Linked DNA regions of Homo sapiens: region 1 is linked to region 2. A link means that fine-mapping ties the variant in region 2 to the expression of a gene that starts in the linked region. Tissue or cell type: monocytes after R848. Region 2 holds a variant in brackets; the other region holds the start of a gene. All regions are shown on one strand. Distances are between the middles of the regions.

Region 1 (8,176 bases), 53 kb after region 2:
GCTTGCTACGTGAAAATCCCCACATAACCACTGCAGTTTGCAACACGCTAAACCCCGCCACCTTGCTCCTGATATGAGAGAGCCCAGTTGAACATAACTGTGTAGAGGTGTTGGACTCAGTTTATTCTAGCAGGCGCAACCTCCGAGACCATCCTTGAACATCAGTAGGCTGTGAGTGGTACGTGGACGGAAGCAGCTTCGCCAGCCCCTGCAAAGTGACTCTGAGGAAGACGACAAGCCCTGCTCCAGTCACAACTGGAAGCTGACTGGTCCACACACGGCCGAAGCATGAGAAAACTCATCGTGGGACTCATTTTCCTTAAAATTTGGACTTGTACAGTAAGGACTTCAACTGACCTTCCTCAGACTGAGGACTGTTCCCAGTGTATACATCAAGTCACTGAGGTAGGACAAAAAGTTGCCACAGTCCTATTATTTTATGATTATTGTAAGTGTACCAGGACTCTAAAAAAAAAAAAAGTTTGTATAATGCTATTCTATGCAAGGTATGTAGCCCAAGAAATGACCAACCTGATGTGTGTTATGACCTGAGTCTCCCATGACCACAGCTTTTGAAATAAGATTAAGGACTGAGGACTGGTAGGGACTCATAAACGATACGAGTAAAGTGTTAGCCAAAATGAAAGAAAAAGGGGTGCCCAAACAAGTCACTTTAAAGTTTGATGCCTGTGCTGTCATTAATAGTAATAAGTTAAAAATAGAATGTGGTTCCCTTAATTAGAAAAGAGGCCATATGACAAAAAATAAGTACATTTGTCATAAATTAAAACTGTGTGGAAATAAATGTAAATACTGGTCTTGTGTCATTTAGGCTACTTAAATAAAAAATAAAAAGGATCCTGTCCACCTTCAAAAAGGAAAAAGTGGCCCTTCCTGTACCAGTGGTCAGTGTAACCCCTTAGAACTAGTAATAACCAACCCCCTTGATCCTCGCTGGAAAAAAGGGGAGCATGTAACCCTAGGAATCAATGGGGCTGAACTGGATCCTTGAGTAAATATCATGGTTTGAGGAGAAATTTATAAACGCTCTCCTGAGACAGTATTTCAAACCTTCTATGATCAACTGAATGTGCCTGCACCAGAAATTCCAGGAAAAACAAGACATTTGTTTTTGCAATTAGCCGAGCATGTGGCCCAGTCTCTCAATGTCACTTCATGTTATGTGTGTGGACGAACTGTAATGGGAGATCAATGGCCACGGGAAGCCCGAGAATTAGTACCTACAGACCCAGTTCCTGATGAATTCCCGGCTCAAAAGAATCACCCTGATAACTTCTGGGTCCTAAAAGCCTCAATCATTAGACAATACTGTATATAGCAAGAGTGGGGAAGGACTTCACCTTTCCTGTGGGAAGACTCAGCTGCTTAGGCAAAAACTGTATAATACTACTACAAAAACAGCCACCTAGTGGAGTTCAAACCACACTAAGAAAAATCCATTTAGTAAATTCCCAAAGTTGCAAACTGTGTGAACCCACCCGGAGTCCCACAGGGACTGGACAGCCCCCACTGGATTATACTGGATATGTAGGCATAGAGTTTACACCAAATTACCCGACCAGTGGGCAGGTAGTCATGTTATTGGCACTATTAAACCATCTTTCTTCCTACTGCCCATAAAGACAGGCGAACTCCTGGGCTTCCCTGTCTGTGCTTCCCGCAAAAAGAGAAGCATAGCTATAAAAAATTCAAAAGATAATACATGGCCCCCTGAAAGAATCATACAATATTATGGGCCTGGTACTTAGGCACAAGATGGCTCCTAGGGATACCCGACCCCCATTTACATGCTCAACCGAATCATACGGTTACAAGCTGTCTTAGAAATAATCACTAATAAGACCGGCAGAGCCTTGACTATTCTGGCCTGGCAAGAAACTCAGATGAGAAATGCTATCTATCAAAATAGATTGGCTCTCGACTACTTGCTAGCAGCTGAAGGAGAGGTCTGTAAAAAATTTAACCTTACTAATTGCTGTCTACACATAGATGATCGAGGGCAATTAGTTGAAGACACAGTTAGAAATATGACAAAACTGGCACATGTGCCCGTGCAAGTGTGGCATGGATTTGGTCCTGGGGCCATGTTTGGAAAATGGTTCCCAGCACTAAAAAGATTTAAAACTCTTATATTAGGAGTTACAATAGCAATAGAAACCTGCGTTCTGCTCCCTTGTTTGCTACCCATACTTCTTCAAATGATAAAAAGCTTCATCGCTACCTTAGTTCACCAAAATGCTTCAGCACAACTGTACTATATGAATCACTATCGATCTGTCTTGCAAGAAAACATAGGTAGTAAAAATAAAAGTGACAACTCCCACTACTGAGTGAGATTCTCAGAGAGGGAGAATAAGGGAGACCACCCCTCATATTGTTTTACGCCCAATTTCTGCCTCCAAAGAGAGAAGTAAAAACTAAAAGGCAGAAATGAAATCCACAAGCAGACAGCCTGCACCACACCCTGGGCCTGGTAGTTAAAGATCGACGCCTGACCTAATCAGTGATGCTATCTATAGATTACAGACGTTATATAGAAAAGCACCGTGAAAATCCCTGTCCTGTTCTGTTCCGTTCTAATTACGGGTGCATGCAGCCCCCAGTCACGTACCCCCTGCTTGCTCAATCAATCACGACCCTCTCACGCAGACCCCTGAAGAGTTGTGAGCCCTTAAAAGGGACAGGAATTGCTCACTCGGGGAGCTCGGTTGTTGGAGACGTGAGTCTTGCCGAAGCTCCCAGCTGAATAAAGCCCTTCTTTAACTCGGTGTCTGAGGGGTTTTGTCTGCGGCTTGTCCTGCTACACTCTGGTGGGAAAGACACCGCAGCAGGGGAGCAGGGTGCGCAGGGTGCAGTGGGTGACGCTCATTCGCTGAAAACTGACCCTGCTTTCAAAGCCTTGTCAGTTCCCAAAGCTGTATGAAGCCTTTCCTGAGCCTCAACCTCTAGAGTCTAATTTCATCCTCTGTATTTTCCCCTTTGTTAGTCCAAACTGCGTCATTTTGTAAGCCCCTTTCCATTTTGTAGACCTTGGTCAAAGTGAAACATTCCACGGGGGTTCGAGCCATGAGAAACAGCCTGCCTCTTAACATATTCTGCTGGGACAAAGCGCCAGGAACACCACATTCTGCCGGAACCACCTCATCCTGGGAACACGTTAACATCTTCCCGGACAGCAAGCCATACTGCCTAGATCCCTCCTGCCCAGGCCTATGAGTACCCCAGCCTGTAATCGCTGGTGGGCTCTGGCATTAAGCTGGCCCCCGACAGGTGTTTGCAATACACCTGTGTTGCTGTAGAGCCGCCCGCGCGCCGGCAATCTCACTGTGCGTCATTCTTTAACCTTCACCTTCCCTTCAAAACCTAACACCCTTGACGTTTATATTCAGGCTATTATATATACATACACACATACACCCTTCTGAATCCTCCCAGGAGAATATAAAACCATGGGTTAAACTGCTACACTTCAGCTTCAGTGGCTGCCTTTCAGTGCTTCAAATACACCAACCTCTTTCCCACCCCGGGACCTGCACGAGAAAGCTGCTCCACTCACCCGCCGTGCTCTTTCACTCACCCTTCAGGTGTCTTCAATATCGCCTCTCAGGCCTTTCCCAACCACCGGTTTAAAGTCGGCTCCCCACAAATAAATACATATTCTCCCTCACAGTACTTCGCACAACACCTGGCACAGCGAGAGCACTGAACCAACACTCATTCAATGAGGAACACGAGGTAAGAACCAAGACCCCCCAAGGTCGCCGTACTTTGTCTGGTAGGAGAAGCTTTCTGCCCAGCAAGGTCCGACCCAGATGAAACCCCGTCCAAGTCTGCAGCACCCCCGTGAGTCCAGCCCGCTAAACTGTGAAGAATTTAAATACACGACACCTGCCCTCAAAAGCTTGAGGGCACCCCTGAGCTGCCATCGAGGTGGGGGCGTCAACGACAGGCGCTCAGTAAGTGCTCCTGAGGCAACTGCCGGGCTGTCCTGGACCTGGTGAATCCTTTCGGGGTTCAGCAAAGGCGGACGCTGACCGGGCCAAGGAGTGGGACCTGCAGTGCTGGACCACCCTTTTCCAAGCGCAGAAGTGCCGTGCCCGCCGGCTCTCAACAGGGCAAGAGGCCCCTCTCGCCGTGCAGAGCGCAGCGCTTGCGGCGGGGACAGCAGAGGCGGGACGGGCGTCACGGAGTTCCCGGGTCCTCGCGCGGTCACTTACCTGGCCTCAGCTATCCGCTGAAAAAGGGGCGGACGGCCTCCCGGGATCCGAGCCGATATCGCGCGCGGCGCCGCGGGGCAACCTGAAGCCGTGTGCGTGCGTGTGCGTTCACGCAGGGGCTCACCCAGCGGCCACGGGCTTCTGAAGACCCGGGTGGGAAGTGCGGCCCGGGAAAGCGCAAGCGTCTCCATGGCAACGAGGGCGGACGGCGTCAGAGCGAGTCGCTTCCGGAAGTGACGTGCGGAAGGGGTGCCCGGGACGAAGCCATGGCCCTGGAGGCGGCGGGAGGGCCGCCGGAGGAAACGCTGTCACTGTGGAAACGGTAATGCTGTCAGGCGACGCGCAGGAGGCGGGGGCCGAGGCCGGGCGGCCCTTCGCGGACCCTCCGAGCTCATAGTCTTCAGGCTGTGGAATCGGAGCTGCCACCGCCCGAGACTCCAAAGCAAAGCCCAGTTTCCGGCGCGGAAGCGGAGGGATCTCAGGAATTGTAGTCCGCGGGGTGGGCGCGGTTCTCGCTTCCGGCCAGTTTGTCTGGCCTGCGCTTGCGCGGGTCTCCGCCGCCTGGGCTCCTAGGGACTGTGGCCTCGGCGGTATGTCCCTTGCTTTCCCTTGAAGCGGGAGAAGACCCGGCAGAGGCGCTCTGTCCGCTGCAGCCGCGCGGGTGGAGGAGGCAGAGTCTGAGGTGTGACCCCGACCAAGTTTGACGCTTCTGTCCTCCTAGGGAGCAAGCTCGGCTGAAGGCCCACGTCGTAGACCGGGACACCGAGGCGTGGCAGCGAGACCCCGCCTTCTCGGGTCTGCAGAGGGTCGGGGGCGTTGACGTGTCCTTCGTGAAAGGGGACAGTGTCCGCGCTTGTGCTTCCCTGGTGGTGCTCAGCTTCCCTGAGCTCGAGGTAACCTGGGAGGACGCCGAGCTCGAGGCGGGCCCCTCGGTGGGCTCGGGCGTGCGGTCTCCGGGACAGGGAGCAGTGCAAGCGTAGAACCCGGCTTCTCGTTTTGTAGGATGTCATTAATAGTCTGGGGAGTTGGCCGGGCGCGGTGGCTCACGCCTGCAATCCCAGCACTTTGGGAGGCTGAGGCGGGGGAATCACCTGAGGTCGGGAGTTCGAGACCAGCCTGACCAACATGGAGAAACCCGGTCTCTACTAAAAATACAAAATTAGACGGGTGTGGTGGCATATACCTGTAATCCCAGCTACTCGGAAGGCTGAGGCGGGAGAATCGCTTGAACCCGGGAGGCGGAGGTTGCGGTGAGCCAACATCACGCCATTGCACTCCAGCCTCGGCAACAAGAGCGAAACTCCATCTCAAAAAAAAAAAAAAAAAAAAAAAGTCTGGGGAGTCTTGGAAGGGAAAAAAAGGCAAAAATTAAGGGAATTCTGTGACTATTAAGAATCAGCTCATGAGCTTTATCTTCAAGTCTGATTGTTATCTTGGGTTCTTCATCTCAGTGACCTGTCCACCACGCTCCCAGTTGCCCAAGCTGGAGATCTGCATCCTCCTGGGCCCCTCCGTTCCTCTCGCGTCCAGTTGCACACTAGCTCGCTTTTATTCTGCCTCTTAAATGTCGCTGGAATCTGTCCCCTTGTCTGTTTCCCCTCTGCTCCTTCCCTGGCTGTGCCACCATCACTCCTGTGGGTTCCTGAGCAGCATTTTCATGGGTGCCCTGGCTCAAATGTTCCTCCTCAGTGGTTTCTTTTCCATACTGCCAGCAGACCAATTTTCCTAAAAAGCAAGTATTTTCCTCAAAAGCAACAAGTCCCCTCCCTCCCTCCCTCCCTCCCTTCCTTCCTTCCTTCCTTCCTCCCTTCCTTCCTCTCTCTGTCTCTCTTTCCTTCCTTTCCCCTTCCCCCACTCTGTGCCCAGGCTGAAGTGCAGTGGCATAATCTTGGCTCACTGTCAAGATCTGATCTCAACCTCCTGGACTCAAGTGATCCTCCCACCTTAGCCTGAGTAGCTAGGACCACAGGTGTGAGCCACTACACCCGGCTTATTTTTTTATTTTTTGTAGAGACAGGATCTCACTATGTTGCCCAGGGTGGTCTCCAGCTCCTGGGCTCAAGGGATCCTCCTACCTTGGCCTCCCCAAGTGCTGAGATTACAGGTGGGAACCACCACACCCAGCCCACAAGTCCTCTTAGAACATTGAAGTGCCCTTCTCATGACCTCATGGTGAATAAAGTTCACTCTGGTTGGCATGGCTTCAAGGCCCGTCATGACCTGTCCCCTGCGTAATTTAATATGACGCTGGAGGCTCAGCCCTCACCACTATTCTCAGTTCTTCCCACCTCCTACAGCCCACTGTGAGTCCCTCACGTGTTTGCTACGCTGTATTTGGCGGCCTGACCTTTGCAGTAATGTTTCTTCTGGAAGGGTTTCCATCTGGCTAACTACTACTCATCTCTTTGGGCTCAGTTTAGACATGACGTCCTCCACTAAGCTCCCTCTCATCCCACAAGACGAGGACTTGTCCCTCAGCACCATGTCTTAGTCCGTTTGGGCTGCTGTAATAGAATACCTTAGACTGGGTGGCCTACCCACAGCAGGAATTTATTTCTCACAGTTCTGGAGGCTGGAGGCTCAAGATCAGGGTGCCAGCGCAATCAGGTTGTGGTGACGGCGCTCTTTCAGGTTGCACAGGGCCAGCTTCTTAACCGTGTTCTCACATGGTGATCCACTCACCTCCCTAGAGGCCCCACCTCGTAATACCATCACCTATGGGTTATAATTTCAACATAGGAATTTGGGGAGGACACCAGCATTTAGACCGTAGCAACCCTCTGCTTCCTCTTGTCTTGCTGGGATGGAACTGGCCTGTCTTCCCTACTGGAATATAAACTCCATGATGGTAGAAACCATGTTGCTTTGCCCACCATGGATAGCATGAGGAAGACGCTGGACTCTTCCTTCAAGAGATACGTGTGTGAATGGACAGTGGGCTCATGATTCACATAAGAGTCAACAGCTCCGGAAGCCTCTTGGCGTCACTCGCATTGCTCCTCTGCTGACTCCCGAAGGTGACAAACGTCTTCCTGCTTCCATGGCTTTGTGCTTTACTTGGGAGGCCCTTTTCAGTCCAAATCAAGCAAAAATGTACTGAGTGCCTACTGTGTGCTAAGATTGGGATATTCAGCAGCCCCTACTCTAAGAGGTCCCCTGGCCATTGTGTAGGCTAGCATAGGGAGTGGGGACACAGTCTTAGGGTCCTGACTACTCATGCTCACACCCAACTCTGCCACTCCCCACTTTGCCCTCTAGGCCTCTGTCTCCTTTTTTCTGACTTGAGGATGATAGTGGTATTAATATCCAGCTCACAGAATTGTGATGAGCAGTACATGAAATGCATGGAAAGCAGTTAACACAGCATTCCCTTCCCCCTCCAACTTCTCCTGGCTGCAAATTAATCACCTCATCTGCATCCTGGGCCTCTTTTGAATGCACATGCTGTTAGAGCGCTTCTCACATTGTATTAAAGTTAGTCATTTATGATTCCATTTTTCCCACTGACTGTAGGTTCTCAAGAGTAGGGTGTACCATATTTCTTTTACAACCCCAGCACCAAGCAAAGCACCTGCTACTTCGTCGGTATTCATTGTTCCGGCTATGAAAGCTTAGACTAGGAAAGGATCTTGGAACAGTCTGGTCCACTGGTTCCTGAATGCCCGACCGTGGACCTGCAGGAGCAGAATCACCCAGAAGTGTGTTGAGAAACAGATTCCGTAGGCACATCCACAGAGACAGAAAGTGGATCCTTGGGCCTTGGAGTTGGGGTGGGATGGATGGGAAGTGACTGCTGATGAGGATGAGGTTTATTTAGGGGTTAAGGAAAATGTTCTAAAGTTAGATTGTAGTGATATTGCACAACTCTGTAAATACCAAAACCATCGCATTATATGTTTTAAACAAGTGAACTTTATGGTATGTTAATTGTATCTCAG
Region 2 (8,176 bases):
CGTTTGAGCCCAGGTATTCCAGGTTATGACGATCTATGATTGTGTCACTACACCGCAGTTGGCGTGACAGAGTGAGACCCTCACATACATGTTTTAAAAATAAAAAAGCAAACACTACTTCACCCTTCCAGTAACCTAATGACAGTTTATTAGATGTAGAATTAAGTTCCATTCCAGTTCCGTCTCTAATCTTAGACATCTTTGTGAGTCTGTTTTCTAGGACTTAAAAATGATGGAAATGTCAAGTTATTGCTGTCGCTGTAGTGTGGTAAATAGTAGACTAGTTGTTTTGTTAATGCTCAAGAAGGAACAAAATGTCAAAAGGTGGCAGACCGCCACTCTGGTTCCTCTGACCCGTGGTGGCCCATCTCTCTTCTGTGCTGCAGGCACACCCTCTGGAAGCGGGTCCAAGGTGCTGTCACCCCTCTGCTGGCGAGCATGATATCATTCATCGACAGAGACGGCAACCTAGAGTTACTGACCAGGCCAGATACTCCGCCCTGGGCAAGAGATCTTTGGATGTTTATTTTCAGTGACACGATGCTTCTGAACATTCCTCTTGTGATGAATAATGAAAGGTGAGTGGAAGGCTTTCTTTCCCTGGGGAGAGAAACTATCAGAACACAGCAGGACCCTAATATGCTCTCCCAAGTGCTGGGTGAAACGCAGCCCTCAACTTCAGAGCAACGTTGACATGGGTGCTTTCTGCAGTAACAATAGGAAGTTTGGCCGGGCATGGTGGCTCACGCCTGTAATCCCAGCACTTTGGGAGGCCGAGGCAGGTGGATCATGAGGTCAAGAGATCAAGACCGTCCTGGCCAACGTGGTGAAACCCCGTCTCTACTAAAAATACAAAAATTAGCTGGGCGTGGTGGCGCGTGCCTGTATTCCCAGCTATTTGGGAGGCTGAGGCAGGAGAATTGCTTGAACCTGGGAGGCGGAGGTTGCAGTGAGCCGAGATGGCGCCACTGCACTCCAGCCTGGTGACAGAGCAAGACTCTGTCTCAAAAAAAAAGAATAGGAAGTTTACGAAGCTCTGAGAAATTTCTGTTTTATCTCCACCCTCCTCATTTCCCTGCTTTCAGAGCACTGGTTCTAGCCAGACCCAGCATGGCGTGACACGGAGACAGTGCGCTGCGAACAGCCCCACAATCTGTGCTCCTTACCCCTGGGATCTGTGCTCCCTCCCCGTCCCTCATTCCCTGGTGGAGCGGCACAGCCCCCACCCCCTTCCGCAGGCCTGATGATGTGCGGCTCAGGCTCAGCTCCCAATAGCTTCCACTTCAGCTTTCAGGGGCTTCAATTCTGGATGTAGATTTATAAAGAATATAGAAATAAATGTGCCCAGGCTCGGTGGCTCATGCCTATAACCCCAGCAATTTAGTAGGCTGAGGCAGGAAAGTTTCTTGAACCCAGGGGTTGAAGACCAGCTTGGGCAACATAGTGAGACCCCATCACTACAAAAAATTTAAAAATTAGGCATAACGTGGTGCGCACCTGTAGTCCCAGCTACTCTAGAAGCTGAGGCGGGAGGATTGCTTGAGCCCAGGAGTTTGAGGTGAGATAGGATCACACCACTCACTGCACTCTAGCCTGGGTGGTGACAGAGTGAGACTCTATCTCAAAAAAAAAAAAAAAAAAAAAAAAAAAAGAGTGAGAGAGGGAGGGAGACAGAAGGAAGAAAGAGAAAGAAAGAGCGAGAGAAAGAGAGAAAGAAAGTAAAGAAAGAAAGAGTGAGAGAAAGAAAGAAATGGAATTTGAATTGCCAGTGGAAACACTTATTTAAAAGACAAGGCGCTGCTGATGTTCATGAAGCAAAGACTCTAACAAGTTGTGCTCTGTGTTACAAGTTATCAAAGCCAGACAGGTTCAGGAACCAGAAGACTTGGTTCTGCCCGAGATTTTGGGCAACACACTTGACCCCTGTCAGCCTTGGTTTGTTTTTGTTTTGCCTGTGAAACAAAGATTGCATAAGACAGTTCCCTAGTTCTGTCATAACAGAAACCCTGTACTGTGAAACAGATCAGCGCCGTCTGCCTGGCCTGTTGGCCCCTTTGTTTTTGAGGTCTGAGAAGAGCTGGCATCAGTGGCAGATCTTATCTTGTGTTTTGAGTGACGTCTCACAAACCCTCTTCTTATCATCCCTCACCTTATTGCAGACATAAAGGTGAGATGGCCTACATCGTGGTGCAGAACCACATGAACCTTTCCGAGAACGCTTCCAACAACGTCCCTTTCAGCTGGAAAATCAAGGACTATCTGGAGGAGCTGTGGGTCCAGGCTCAGTACATCACAGACGCAGAAGGTGAGGCTACCTCAAGACAGGTCAGATTCAGCACAGGTGAATCACAAAGGGATTGCCTGACAGTGAAAAGCAGATGGGTGGCTAGAATTGCAAGGTGAATTTTGGAGTTTTTAGTTTTCACACTTTGTTTGTGCAGTAAGCGTCCAATTTACGTCACCGCGTCATTTTAAAGTTTCTGCTGAAGGAGTGAGAGGCCCCGGCGGGACCAGAAACCTTTCGATCCTATGGCAGCAGGAGCCTGTGAGATGGTTTTTAGTGCCGTGATGGCCAGGGATATGGCGAAATGGGGTGTGTTCTGGCAAGAGGAGGACTGTCGCCTCTATCAGCTGGTCATTCCCATTCTGGGCCTTCTCAGACTGGGGCACTGGACTCGGAAGATGCCCCCAGGAGAGGCGTTCTCAGAAGGCACGAGCGCCTGGAGCATCCCCTACTCCCAGGTGCCCCATCAGGAGGCACCTCCCAGCTGTGTCTCCCGAGTCACAGCCCAGACACAGTGCTGAGCTCTGCTGCCAGATGCCAGAAGATTTGCCCTAGTCCAGAAAAACCAACGACAACGCAACACTTTTACAAAAGCCATCTTTCATACATGCAATAGTCTTTTCCACGTTTACTTATCGTACCATTTGGAAGACTCAGGGTGGCCTTCTTTTCTAGGTTACCATTCTGCCACTTTTTCTCAAAGCAGTCTCTCTCCTCATGAGCATATTCCTTTCTCAGGACAATACCCCAACTGACCCTGCTTTTCTATGACAGCATGCGAATTAGGGGCTGCACCCCGCCCACTAGAAGCCAGATCTTTCTGGCTTGCATGCTCTGTGACCCCCAGCCCCTGAAGAGCAGCCCACTTGTTCCTAATTTACTTGGACCCGGGGGTTCCTGAAGCATGCTGTGACCTGTAGCCATGCAACATACAATGTAGCCATGCAACATACAACTCAGTCTTATCTAGATGTTTCTCTTTGGGGCTAGCTTGGCTGTTTCTGACCTAAATTTGACACTGTTTCCGCCTTCCTTTATTTTATTCCACTGGAAAAATATCCTAGGCCAGGCGCAGTGGTTCACAACACCTTGGGAGGCCAAGGCCGGCAGATCACCTGAGGTCAGGAGTTCGAGACCAGCCTGACCAACATGGTGAAACCCCGTCTCTACTAAAAATACAAAAAATTAGCTGGGTGTGGTGGTGCATGCCTGTA[G/A]TCCCAGCTACTTGGTAGGCTGAGGCAGGAGAATCACTTGAACCTGGGAGGCGGAGGTTGCAGTGAGCAGAGATCACGCTACCCACCGCACTCCAGCCTGGGCAACAGAGTAAGACTCCATCTCCAAAAAAAAGGAAAAAGAAAAATATCCTAAATGTCTAGACAGTGACTATTCCTTCAATTCCCTACAAAATCAGGCAGTTGGTACCCCTTTGTCTACGAGCTCCCATTCAACAAGGCGTCCCCATTCCCCTTCACTCCGGAGCCCCCTGGAGGCAGGGGAGCGCCATGACTTAGACGCACTCCAGGCCGCTCCTTGGTTTCCTCTCTGCAGGACTGCCCAAGAAGTTCGTGGACATCTTTCAGCAGACTCCTCTGGGCAGGTTTCTTGCCCAGCTCCATGGAGAGCCGCAGCAGGAACTTCTTCAGTGTTACTTGAAGGATTTCATTCTCTTGACCATGCGTGTGTCAACGGAGGAGGAATTAAAGGTAGATGTTTAGATACTGGCTAAGGGTCAGGTGTAGAGCTTGCATGATGGGGACTGGATGCAGACACGGAGACGTTTCCTCAGCTGCCTGGAGCTGGTGCTGTGAAGTCTGGGAACAGAACATGGTCAGCGAAGGGTGCCGGTGGGTGAAGGGGTCGCCCAGTCTCCTCTCAATATTCAGTGCTACACCCTCAGTCCACCGCCCAGGGGCTCCTAAAACACGGAGCTTTCTGTGAACATGAGAAGACCTCCAATTTCCTTGACATAGCTTCTTTTTAAATGTTGAGTTTCTCTTGAAAAAAATTAAATACGTAACTAACCCTACAGGGTAAGAATAAACAAGTGAAATTCAATAGAAAGTCATACTTTTGACTACCTAAAAATTTTAAACTTCAGTACATAAAAAAGGAGAGTGACAAATTTAAGAACATCCTTACAGCTAATATGACTAGAGGTTAATATTCTTAGGAATCAATAAGAAAATACCCTAAGTTTTAAAAAATGGGTAAACGTTATAAAACAACAATTTTATAATCTCATTAAGCATATCAACATCCAGGAAACATTTGAAAAATTGCTTAGCCTTACTATTAATAGCAAATCAACACAACAGTTTTTAGATATCATGTTTACGTATTCATTTTGCAAAGCTGATTTTTAAAAACAACAGCCGCCGGCCAGTGCTGCAAAGAAATAGCCAGGCCACGCGGCTGACAGTGTAGCGTGCACAGTGGGCGCCCTGCAGGGCTGCGTGGCAGAACAGTTGAGCACCTTATCCGATCTGAACTGCTGACTCTGTCCTGAGGAAACTACTGGAGATGTGGACAAATATTTGGTTCACAGGGATGTCCTTTTCAGCTTTGCTTCGAAAAATAAGAAATAGTTTAATTGTCCGGAAATACAGGATGGGCAAATTAAAGTATGGCCGTATGATGGGTTATTGAGCAGCCATTAAAACCATGTTTTTCAAGTATACTCAGTCATAGGGAAAGTTCATGATGTCATGTTCAGTGGCAAAAAGCCCAGACGACACGGTGACCTTAACGTGGGAGGAGAGGCAGATAGAAAACTGGACAGAAGCAAACGGGACAGAATAGCACACATGGTTTCTAATTTCCTCTTTTATGGTTTTCCAATAGTTCGGATTTCCCACGGGGAAAACATACCATTTTTGTAATTTAAAAATATATTCTAAAAGCTTTTTTGAATCCCAGTTTCTGCAGATGGCTCTGTGGTCCTGCACTAGGAAACTGAAAGCGGCGTCAGAAGCGCCCGAGGAAGAGGTTTCCTTACCGTGGGTGCACCTTGCCTACCAGCGTTTCAGAAGCCGTCTGCAGAACTTTTCCAGAATCCTGACCATCTACCCTCAGGTTCTCCACAGCCTGATGGAAGCCCGTTGGAACCATGAGCTGGCTGGATGTGAGATGGTATGGCCCTCCTCCGCCTGCCCTGAGCAAGCCTTGTGGTGCTTCCAACTCCACTCTGGGAATGGAGAGCTTCTGGGGCTGTGTTCCAAGTGGGAGATTTCTTCACAAGGCACATACCTTAGCTGAATTCAGAGATGTTAAGGACACATCTCGCTGACGCTTCTCACATCCTAGACAATGAAAGTTTAGGTCGCAAGCCTGGGACACAAGTATACATGCAGCTAACAGCCGGGGCCTCTGGTGGGCCGGTGGGAGGGGCACCGCTCAGCCACGCCCTGCTGTCCGTCTCCCCAGACCCTGGACGCATTTGCCGCAATGGCCTGCACGGAGATGCTGACAAGAAACACCCTGAAGCCCAGTCCCCAGGCGTGGCTACAGTTGGTGAAGAATCTTTCCATGCCGCTGGAGCTCATCTGCTCCGATGAGCACATGCAAGGCAGCGGGAGCCTGGCCCAGGCTGTCATCAGGGAAGTCAGGTGAGACCCAGGAGCCCTCACCCACTGCTTCATCTGGCGCGCGCTCACCAGGAGCCTGCCAAGTGCCAGGCATGTCCATGAGAAGACGGGCAGGTGCTCCTGCCATGGGAGGGGCTCCGTCCTCACCCGTTCACTCCGCATTTGCCGAACCCTTAGTGAGTGCCAGGCGTCTCATTAGGGTGCTGGAGACACGAGAGGCGGCTGTGCATTCAGGGAGCGCACTGTGTACTGGGGCCGTAGAAAGGCAGACGGGCTATTGTGATGCCGTGTGAGAAATGCTGTGGTAGAAAGGACACCCCGGGCGGGCAGGTGCACAGAGCAGGACAGGCCCTCAGGGCCAGAGTCCACTTCCCTAAAGGTGAGGTGGGACTTGACAGGCGCAGGATCATGCAGTGAGCGGGTTGTGGTGGTACCCCATGCAGAGGCATCACAGTGGGACACCGAGTCCCAGCTAAGCTGAGCGTCTGAGAGCGAGAGCTGGGGGCGGGCCAGGAAGTATGTCACATAGGGCTTGCTTGTAATCCCAGCCGCTGGGCCTGGACCCCGGGTCCCGCATCTCTTCTCCCGTCTCCCTCCTCGTTTCACCCTTGGGTTCCTTGGTGGGAGCCGAGTGAGTGAGTGAGTGGCGCCCTCTTTTGACAGAGCCCAGTGGAGTCGGATTTTCTCCACCGCACTCTTCGTGGAGCACGTGCTCCTAGGAACCGAGAGCCGCGTCCCCGAGTTACAGGGGCTGGTGACCGAGCACGTCTTCTTACTAGACAAGGTGAGTACTTGGGCTGGCCTCAGCACATGCACGGATCCACCCTTTTCCGAAAGGAAGAACAGCACTGACAGTGATCTGCGGCTGGGAGACGCTCTTTTGGCTCTGACCGTTTTGTCTAGACATGCAAAGGAAGGTGATTTCATCACTAGGCCATTACATTTTCCATGTTTAATTGTTTAATTATTTACCCTCTGCTGATTGCTAAGTCAGAGCATATCATTTAGAAGTGATTCCAGGAACTGTGTGCAGAAAGGGGCTGACGCAGGGAACATGCTTGTGAAACCTTCGGCAGGGATTACCTGGCCTTTGGAGTGACCCCAGAACAGACCACTAGCCTGGCCATCTGTGGAAGCTGTTACCATTTTCATAGTCATGGAGACAAGGATGTCAGAGAATGCCACCGGGGTTTGGGGTCTTCAAAACAGTGCTGTCAACAGAACCAAGGAACAGGAAGCCACCATGCCTGTCACTCAACACCCTTCATAAAGCTACTAATGTGGGGTGGTCTGCAGAAAGAAACCTGTGACCCTACAGTGATGCCCCTCTGTGGCCACGCAGTGGTGTCCAGCAACAGTGGCCACTCAGCCAAACACAGCCTCAGCCTCTGCCTCACCCGCACCCGTGACCTTCACGTGAGCACATCCAGAGCCCTCACCGCCAGGGGGTCTGGAAGAGGCAGCGCTGGCTGTCCGACCTTTGGAGCACAGGAAGGTTTACTAAAAGGAGGCCAGCATGGATGCTGGATGTGTTGACTCTGACCTATCAAAACATCAGCGGCTTAGACACAGTATCAGCTGATTTCCCACCCAGGATGGGTATGAGCAGCCCAAGGCTAAGGTACCAGCTCCCCGGAGGCTGGCACGGAGTCAGGTGCCCACGCTCCGTCTTGTCCCTTCATTGTCCCTAATGTTCAGCTTCCACCCCGTGGCCTGGCGTCACAGCCTGTGGGACAGAAAGCAGGGGAGGTAGAGGACAGGCCGTTTTCCTTAAGAGCCCAATCCCGGACACGCACACGCCACACCAGCTCGTGTCTCGTGGTCCTAAACTTAGGCACTCGGCCTTATCTGGTTGCAAGAAACTGAGGAGTTTTTCGTGGCATGGTCATGTTCCAGGTGGAACTTGAGTTCTTCTGCTGAAGGAAAAGGCGGAGAGAGGATAGTAGGACACAGCCGGTGCCCCCCTTCCACCCTTTTCCCCACACCCACACAGCATGCAGCCTCTCCAAGTCTCATCATGTCTCGGCGCTCTGGGAGATGCACAGGGCTTTCAGCCAGGTCCAGCGTGGGTCATAAGGGCCAGGTGCCCATAAACCCAAAGGTAAAGGAGCTGGCCCCTGCCTGCTCACATGCCCACAGGATTTGGGAGGTTAGGAACGTGGGGAGGGTTTTTTTTGGCGATAAAATGGCCTCAGAAACTTACTGGGTTTCTGGTTTATTTCCTTCCAGTCAGATCTCTGTGCAGGTAACCACAGCCAAAGACCTTACCTCGTTAGTTTTCCTGCTGGAAGCCTGACTTGTACCCCTA

Alleles and levels. Alleles are on the strand shown, and positions count from the first base shown. SD is a standard deviation of normalised expression in the study named.
In carriers of allele G in region 2, the expression in monocytes after R848 of the gene that starts at base 4,478 in region 1 tends to be higher than with A alone (moderate effect, 0.52 SD a copy in Quach 2016).

What was found. PIP is the estimated chance that this variant, and not a neighbour inherited with it, causes the effect.
Region 1: RNF213-AS1 starts here. The variant in region 2 is fine-mapped to the expression of RNF213-AS1 in monocytes after R848 (Quach 2016, PIP 0.95).

Annotation. Positions count from the first base shown.
Region 1 is chr17:80,410,691-80,418,866 of GRCh38, forward strand. It overlaps RNF213-AS1 (RNF213 antisense RNA 1), which reads right to left and starts at 4,478. Exons shown (of 2, transcript NR_029376.1): 1 at 4,239-4,478. It overlaps ENDOV (endonuclease V), which reads left to right and starts at 4,477. Exons shown (of 10, transcript NM_173627.5): 1 at 4,477-4,560; 2 at 4,960-5,131. The coding sequence starts at 4,505. RefSeq lists an enhancer at 4,910-4,999.
Region 2 is chr17:80,357,902-80,366,077 of GRCh38, forward strand. RNF213 (ring finger protein 213) reads left to right here. Exons shown (of 68, transcript NM_001256071.3): 37 at 387-578; 38 at 2,160-2,305; 39 at 3,833-3,987; 40 at 5,201-5,413; 41 at 5,708-5,889; 42 at 6,532-6,652. The region is part of intron 1 of RNF213-AS1 (RNF213 antisense RNA 1); the gene reads right to left. Among named protein-coding and RNA genes, the nearest start is that of ENDOV, 53 kb to the right of the region's middle. The variant G/A (reference allele first, on the strand shown) is at 3,499.